3 separate regions of the Homo sapiens genome follow, and regions 2 and 3 are each linked to region 1. Evidence: fine-mapped expression QTL. A gene starts in region 1. Each other region holds a variant in brackets. All regions are shown on one strand. Distances are from middle to middle. Region 1 holds the start of LRRC20 (leucine rich repeat containing 20). Region 2 overlaps LINC02636 (long intergenic non-protein coding RNA 2636). Region 3 overlaps LRRC20 (leucine rich repeat containing 20).

Region 1 (2,500 bases):
ACCGGATTATTGTGGGAAGTAACTGATATGTAACTTTTGGGAAAGGACTTTGCGAACCATTACATGTTTCCCACACCAAGGCATTACCAGTAGGTAATCAAACAGGTGTAGAGAGGAAGTTTGGATGTAATAAATTCAATGCCAGACAAAAACGTTGTCCTGCTTTGGGGGAGCTGGCAATACAGCCCTCCTGTCCCTATAACCTGGTTTCACCTGGACTCAGGCTGGCTGGGGGAGGGGTGATTTTTGCTTAAACCCTGACCTGGCCCCCTGACTCCAGCCCTTACCATCAATAACTCTACCTTATCTGCAGTCCGGAGACCTCTGCAAAGGAGCCGCTGCGACAGCCCGTCCCCACCATCTGCTCCTATATTTAGTTACTGGTGTTGTCAGTTGGGAACGTTAGAGCCTGGCAGGGGCTCGGATGGGCAACCGGAGCCTCCGGAGCCATGTGTGCAAGCTGGCCCTACCGCTGGCTCCAGCCCGGGCTCTGGACCATGCCAAGCCGGGGAGCGGGTGGGGAGGTGAGGAGCGACCCAAATAGTCCCAAACCCCCCTTCAGATCAGAACGAAGTTGACCCACTTCCCCACCCCAGGGAAAGAAGCCCGCTGGGACGTGAGCGGGACCTGCTGGCGCCTTGTTTTTGTGGCATGGGGTTCGGGAAGCTCAGCGCGTGCTCCCTCGCTAACATCTAGGCATCCTCGGACTGAGCCTCCAGCACTACGCGCGGTAGCCAGGCAAGGGTCCCCCAGCCCCGCGTGCCAGGATCCGCCTCACCCCCGGTGCCTGCAGCCAATGGCACCTCGTCCGCTGGCCCGGCAGGCGGGGACTGGGAGAATAAAGCTGGCAGAGGGAAGAATGGTAGTGATCGCAGAGGCCCCGGGGCTCCCACGCTGCCCGGAGGCCGAGAGGCACGCTCTGGAGCAGGCGTCTGCAGCTCCCCAGAGCGGAAGCAAACCCCGAAAGTGTCGCTTCGGGGACGAAATGCACAGCAGCCTCTCCAAGCAAGGGCGCCTCCCGCGAGGAATGGAGGCCCGCCTGGGAGCGGTTCTCCGAGCTCCCTATTCCCTGGCACCTCTGCACCCACTCCCCTGAACCATCGGGGTCCAGGTGCAGTGAGCAAGCAAGAGCCCGCGCATGCCGAGCCCCTTGGCACCGCCAGAGCCTCCGCTGGTGCACCGCTGCTCTTTTCCACCGGGTGACCTGGGGGAGGGGAGGGGACGCTGCAAAAATCGGAACACTTCTCGCCCTCTCTCCCCCAGCCCCTGCAACGCTTGACCTCGGACTACATTTACTTTGCGGGGCAAGAAGCGTGTGGTCCCGCTCCGGGCCGCTTTTGGCTCCACTTACGGCGACAATGCCTCCTAGCGCCCTGCGCAGCGCAGTCACGCTCCCTCCGCCGCCGGCGGCGCCCCAGGCGAGTTCCGAGCCGGCGGGGCGGGGCGCGCGGGGCTGCGGGATCTGCGCGCGCGGCCACTCCGCCAATCCCGGCGCCAGGACCGGCGCCGCGGCGGGAGCAGGCTGGGCTCGGGATGCGCTCAGCCAATCAGTGGGGGAGCGGCGCGCGCGGGGGTGGCGCGCGGAAGGGCAGCCCGCGCGCTCCCGGCCGCAGGGAGTAACCGCTTTGTGTGCTGCTTCTAGAGGGAGAACGCCTGAGGGGGCGGAGATACAGAGTGGGACGCGCAGTACATCCCAGGATCTCTAGGACCGGGGCTCCAGATTGGGTTTTCTCGAGGGAATGGAGTTGAATTAGCCAGATCAGGGATACTTTGAAACACGTGAACATGGAGCATAGGGAAATTTTCCTATGATGACTTCGGGTGCCCATTGAGGTTTTTAGTATATGCAAGGCCCTGTGTCTCGGCCCTGCGTCTCCAATCCTAATGTTCTCATCTATAAAATATGACTTGAGGGCGGGGCGCGGCGACTCACGCCTGTAATCCCAGCACTTTGGGAGGCCGAGGTAGACGGATCACCTGAGGTCGGGAGTTCGAGACCAGCCTGGCCAACATGGCAAAACCCCCGTCTCTACTAAAAATACAAAAATTAGCCGGGCGTGGTGGCAGGCGCCTGTAGCCGCAGCTACTCGGGATGCTGAGGCAGGAGAATCGCTTGAACCCGGGAGGCGGAGGTTGCAGTGAGCCGAGATGGGCACTCCAACCTGAGTGGACAGAGTGAGACTCTGTCTCAAAGAAAAAAAAAAGAATATTTAATTCCGCCTCTAGGGGGTCTAGGCAGTCAAAGAACACACATTCCCTTGGGCCTCGATGGATGTTAAGGGTTACTTATGCCCTCTCCACCCCCAACAATATGTTAAAGTTCATCAGAATGTGATCTTATTTGGAAGTAGGGCCGTTGCAGATGTAATGAGTTAAGGTCATGCTGGAGTAGGGCGGGCCCCTAATCCACTGAGACTGGTGTCGTTGTAAGAGAAGAGACACAGAAGAGACGCACAGGGAGAACCACCTGTGGTGATGGCGGCAGGGATCAGCTGATGCA
Region 2 (2,844 bases), 380 kb before region 1:
TCGATAATTACAAGGGTTGGCATGATGAGGAGAAACTGGAACCTTCATAGCCTGCTGATTGGAATGTAAAGTAGTGCCACCAGTTTAGCAAAACAGTCTGATAGTTTCTCAAGAGGATATAGTTACCATATACCTAGTAATTCCACTCCCAGGTATATACCCAAGAGAGATGAAATATACATTCCCACAAAAATGTGTACACAAATGTTCATAGCAGCATTATTTATAAGAGCCCAAAAGTGAGGGGGCAGGGGGACAAATGCCCATCAACTGATGAATGGATAAATAAAATGTGGTATATGTTTACAATGGAATATTATTCAGCCAAGTAAAGGAATGTAGTGCTGATACATGCCACAACATGGATGAGTTTTTAAAACATTATGCTAAGTGAAAGAAGCCAGACACAGAAGGCCACATATTGTGTGATTCCATTTACATGAAATGTCCTCATTAGGCAAATCCATAGAGACAGAAGCAGATTAGTGGTGGCCAGGGGCTGGGGGGGCAATAGGGAGTATGGGTTTTCTCTTTGGGATGATAGAAATGCTCTGGATTTAAATAGTTGTAATGATTGCACAAATTTGTGAATATACTAATAACCACAGAATTATACACTTTTAAATGGTTAACATGGTGAATTTTGCTATGTGAATTTTATCTCTATTTAAAAAAAAACTGTGGACAATATTTATCTCAAAATCAGGTGACAAGGTGAGTGCACACATTGCCAAAACTCACTCAACATAACACTTAAGATTTGTACATTTTGTTGTTTGTAGATTATACCTCAATTGGAAAAAAATGTTGGGTGTTAAGCTAGCCCCACAACATCAACATACACTTGGGGACAAAACCTTAGTAGCCACAAGACCTGCACTAGCATTGGTGCAGAGGAGAGCAGAGAAAAACAATGGGACACATAATAAACCTGAAAACAGGAGACCCCCAAAATATCCAGTAGGCATTGGTTGGAAAGTATATGGGTCAGTTTTAATTTAGCACCTGAAAGAGAGTGCTTTACACAATCCAATGGCTAGTGAGTGCAAGGGGTCCCCAGTAAGATATGAAGGACCAGAGGCAGTCAACTCTCCGTGAATTCTCAAAATTGACCTGCCTCCCTCTAAGGACAGGGCCCCACCTTGCAGGACAATGGAGGTGAAGAAAAGAGAAGATCCACATGAAAATAGAGGAGATGAACAGAGCCACAAAATCTCAGCAAGGACATCACTATATTTTTTAACACTTCACAAAACACTCCTTGAAGAGGGAGCTCTAGCAAGTTAGCAAAGCCACTCTGCATCATAGCTTCTTCCAAAAGTTTAGGAAATTAATTTTGCATGAAATCGAATAACAGAAAAGCATGCACATCAAAGTCCATATAAAGTTATTATAAGAAAAAAGATCACGAACAAAATAACATTCCTACAGATCATGAAAATATGCCACTAAAATAGGTCCCAGAACTGATCAAAATGTAATCTTCCATTTCAAAATGAGCTAAGTGGCATTTTTAAATGATATAACACATGCAATAACATAAGTAAGAACTAGAGCAACTCAGAAATGCAGCGACAGCTCATCATTAAAAACCACATACTGGTGACAGGTGTTTCGACAACTGTTC[G/A]GCTGAGTCTGCTGCAAAGCCGTGTGGTCCGTAAGGCCGCTGGGAGTTTTTCTTTGTTCTCCTGTTCTTTGTTCCCAACAGCAGACCCAGGTTGTTGGACAGAGGGACCTGAGCTGAGCAGCAGGTATTATCTCACTCACCTTTACAGACAGCAGCAGCAGGGTCCAAGGTGAGGGTGGGTTGCAGGGCTGACTGTAGTTCCAAAGCAAGCTGGGTTCTTCTGAAAAATGACAGCGTCTTAAGTCTACAGAGCTGCCTCTAGCAAAAGGTTTGTGTGAGTCCGTGTATGCTGAGCTTTTTGTTGTTTTTTTAGATAAGAAACAGAAGAAAATCATCCCAGATTCTGTCATTCCCTGGAAAGAGAAGGGGAATTCCAAGTTTCTCAGAGGCTCTTTGGGGTCACTAGCCAACCACCCACATGTAGGAGTTAACACCTACCATCACTGGAGGTTTCAAAGACCTGGCTTGGAGAACATGCAGGGAGGAGGGCCGGGATGTGCCCATGCAGAGTCCCCTTGGTGTCACCATGGGCGCGTCACAGCCAGTCAGGCTCTGGATTCTACACCGTGTGTAGCATAGAGAAGTAACTTCTTGTTGTCATTCATTACTACCTTAAAGAACTGGAGGAATCATCTCCTAGGAAACAGTGCCATGTTTGTGCCCAGCAAACAGTGCCCAGGTGCCATCTGGGAAGGGGCAGTTTTATTGAAAGATGTCTTACTGCTTATTCTAGAGTTTTTAGCAACTCCCCTTCTTGCCTCCACCCCCCAGACCTTACTTTTTACCAGCTTGTCTTTTTTTCTTCTTCTTTATCCCAAAGGTTTTAACCTCCAGTCCCTTCTTGATGCCCACTTGATGGAATTCTCCAGCACCATCTGCCCTTGTTCACTCATCTGCTTTTCCTTCTCTTCTCCCTGCAAGCACCTGATTACCATCCTATGATGACTTCTCTCCACTCCCACCCTGCCCCCATGGTCCAGTTATCCCTGGATGAGTGTGGATCTGCTAAAGCCACACACATTCATCTCTGCCTGTACACTTTAGACATACAGTCAGACCCCCACTCACACTTAATTTGGGTGCACATTATCTGTCAATAGACGAAAAAGAGTTTTCTCATTTTGAAATTTAACAGAACAGTCAGGGATACTATTACAAAGTCAAGGTGTACCCTTTGGGTGAACCTGCTGTCAGAATGACAGTACTTCCTATTTGAG
Region 3 (2,844 bases), 83 kb before region 1:
GAGTGAGACTCCGTCTCAAAAATAAAAAATAAAATAAAAGGAATAATGGATCGGCTGGGAGTGGGCTCATGCCTGTAATCCCAGCACTTTGGGAGGCCGGGGTAGGTGAATCACCTGAGGTCAGGAGTTCAAGACCAGCCTGACAAACATAGCGAAACTCCATTTCTACTAAAAATACAAAATTAGCCAGGCATGGTGGTGGGCGCCTATAATCCCAGCTACTTGGGAGGCTGAGGCAAGAGAATCTCTTGAACTGGGAGGTAGAGGTTGCAGTGAGCCGAGATCACGCCATTGCACTCCAGCCTGGGCAACAATAGTGAAACTCCGTCTCAAATAGTAATAATAATAATAATAATTAGAAACAATGGAGCATCTGGACTAAAACTCAAGGCAAACTTAAGCTGGCCTCTCAGACTTAAGAAAAGCAAAACCTGACTTTAACATTGAACCCAGAGCAGTAGTTCTCTAACTTCAGCAGGCATCGGAACCACATGGAGTGCTTGTTAAGAGTGCTGGGCCCCATCCCCGAGTTTCAGATTCTGCACATCTAGGGTGGAGTCAACTATTCGCATTTCTAACTAACTTCCTGGTGCTGCGGATGCTGCTGGCCCAGAGATCCCTCTTTGAGAACCATGGACTCAGAGGAACAAATTACTAAGGGAATAATTTCTGGCACTGGTAAGAGAGAAATGTGGAGATAGTGGGTCTCTTCATCCTTTCCCAGATACACAGTCTCCCCCTGATGTTTAGCCATCCTGCAGTAACGCAGCTGGGGGGCACGCACCAATTCTGCTTGGCTGCACCTGTGCCCACCTGTGAATAATCCACGTTTCATCCCGTTCTAGCCTTCTTTACCTCGTGCTTTCAACAAGAGGGCACCCCTCTTGCATGTGGGCTGGTTTGACGCCCAGGCTATAGGAGGTCTGTACAGTGAGAATGAATCAAACACCAACCAGGCAGATGAAACCAATGCATTCTTTATTGCAGACTGAAGCTTAGGGGCTCACTCACTGTGAGCTCTGATTTGGGGGCATCTGTGGCTGCCCACACTTTCCAAGACAGACAAGGGCAAACTCTCCAAGCAGAGGAGAAAACAACTTCCAGAAGCTGCCCCTTCAAAGGCCTGAGGTGAGGACCTGGGGCAGCAGGCAGCTTGGCATGCAGGGGTTAACCAGAAAGGCCGGGTCTGGAGGGCTGGGCACACCTAACCCTCATCTCCTGGTGACTGCAGGTCACACTCCCTTCTTCAGGAGTGCCATGCAGACTCTGGAACAATCTAACAGGCCAAGTGTCTCCCAGGGTGGGTTAGGGAGGAGGCTGAGCACAGGCTCAGATCCCTGGAAGTGGCAGGGAGAGAACTGAGAGAAACTTCACCCTCTGCTCGGAGGACATCCCCAGCCTAGGTCCTTGCTTCTCAAACTCTAAAGTGCTTATAGGAATCAGCTGGGGGTCTTGCTAAAATGCAGGGTCTGAGTCGGGAGGTATAGGGTGAGGCCTAGACTCTGCATTCCTAACAAGCTCCCAGGTGTCACTGCCGCTGCTGGTCCACAGACCACACTTTGAGTTGCAAGGCTCTGGTCATACATTGTGTTTGTGCACATCAGAGAAGGATGCCTCTTCTTCAACAAGGAGAAACCCCACTCCAGGGCACAAGGCAGGTGGGGCCAGCGCAGCCTGCACAGGACTTCAGCCCCCACTTGCCCCCAACACCCACAGATGAACTCGGTAGCTCTGGA[G/C]ATCCTGTCTTGACCTCCTCATCCTGAAAACCCTTTGCCCAGAGTTTGACCAACCAGGCCTTGGGATACGAGCAGAATGAACAGAGTCTCTTGAGATACTGAGCGCTCAGTGATGGCCCAACAATGGCCCGACCTATCAGTTCCTTCCCAAGAGACAAGAGACCTGGGCAGGGACGAGGGAACTGGGAGCATTCTGAGCAGGGATTACTGCTCTGAGCAGTGGTCTGAGCTCTCAACATCTTAGCCTTAGGAGTAGTAAAGTGGCCACTCGTCCACGGCACACAGGATTTGGACGGCCTGGCTTTGCCTCAAGCTCTGGGGCCTCAGGTGTCTCTGGAGATGCAAACAAAGATGCAGATCAGGTGGGGTCTGGGGCACTGAGTTGGCTTGCTCCACAGATGAGGAGAAGGTGGGAGGTAGATACCTGAGGACCAAGCAGTCAAGGTTCTTCAAGCCACAGGCGTTCTCGGGAAGCAAGAGCCCCAGGCCCTCTCCTGGTAGGGGACCAACCATCCCCACTTGCTGGGTACTGTCCCAGTTTTAGCATTGAAAGTTCCATGTCCTGGGAAACCAGGACAGCTGGTCACCCTGTTGCCTGACCATACCCTAAGATGCCAGGTTGAGGGCCTCAGAAGAACCAGGTCATCAGGGCTTTGGGCGTTGGCCTGGGAGCTGGCTGGCTACAAATCCCGTGGTCCACATCGCCTTCTGCCCCCAGGAGGCCATGACAAGGCAGCCAGGCTGCTGCTGGACTGGACAGTGGTGAGGGTGGCCATCTAATCACTTTAGACAAGAGCTGCAGGTGTAACTGACTCTGCTGTTCTCTGGGCCACCTCTCCCGCAGCTCAGGAGTGATGCTAGAGGGACGGAGCACTCAGGACTTCCCACCCCGCCAATTTGTTAACTGTGGGGAATGACAGAGCTGACGTGACTTGCTCCCCATTCCCAGCCTGCTGGTCCTCGGGCTCCTACATGAATGTTCTTGCCCTGCAGCAGTGCCAGCCCATATTCCCACCACAGCTCTCCCAGGACTCCTAGTTCAGGTTCCCACCAGTCCAGGGACCACAGGACTGAAGACTGGGCCCTGCAGAGGGCCGCATCCAGGTCA

What was found.
Region 2: its variant is fine-mapped to the expression of LRRC20 in fibroblasts (GTEx, PIP above 0.99).
Region 3: its variant is fine-mapped to the expression of LRRC20 in whole blood (TOPMed, PIP above 0.99). The same link has a PIP of 0.9 or more in prefrontal cortex.

The regions. Positions count from the first base shown.
Region 1 is chr10:70,381,198-70,383,697 of GRCh38, forward strand. LRRC20 (leucine rich repeat containing 20) reads right to left here and starts at 1,428. Exons shown (of 5, transcript NM_001278212.2): 1 at 1,352-1,428. RefSeq lists enhancers at 639-1,258, 1,103-1,302, 1,833-1,932 and a silencer at 1,333-1,702.
Region 2 is chr10:70,005,690-70,008,533 of GRCh38, forward strand. LINC02636 (long intergenic non-protein coding RNA 2636) reads right to left here. Exons shown (of 5, transcript NR_184066.1): 1 at 2,066-2,844; 2 at 1,768-1,980. Among named protein-coding and RNA genes, the nearest start is that of LINC02636, 2.2 kb to the right of the region's middle. The variant G/A (reference allele first, on the strand shown) is at 1,628.
Region 3 is chr10:70,298,014-70,300,857 of GRCh38, forward strand. It overlaps LRRC20 (leucine rich repeat containing 20), which reads right to left. Exons shown (of 5, transcript NM_001278212.2): 5 at 962-2,844. Among named protein-coding and RNA genes, the nearest start is that of NPFFR1, 15 kb to the left of the region's middle. The variant G/C (reference allele first, on the strand shown) is at 1,737.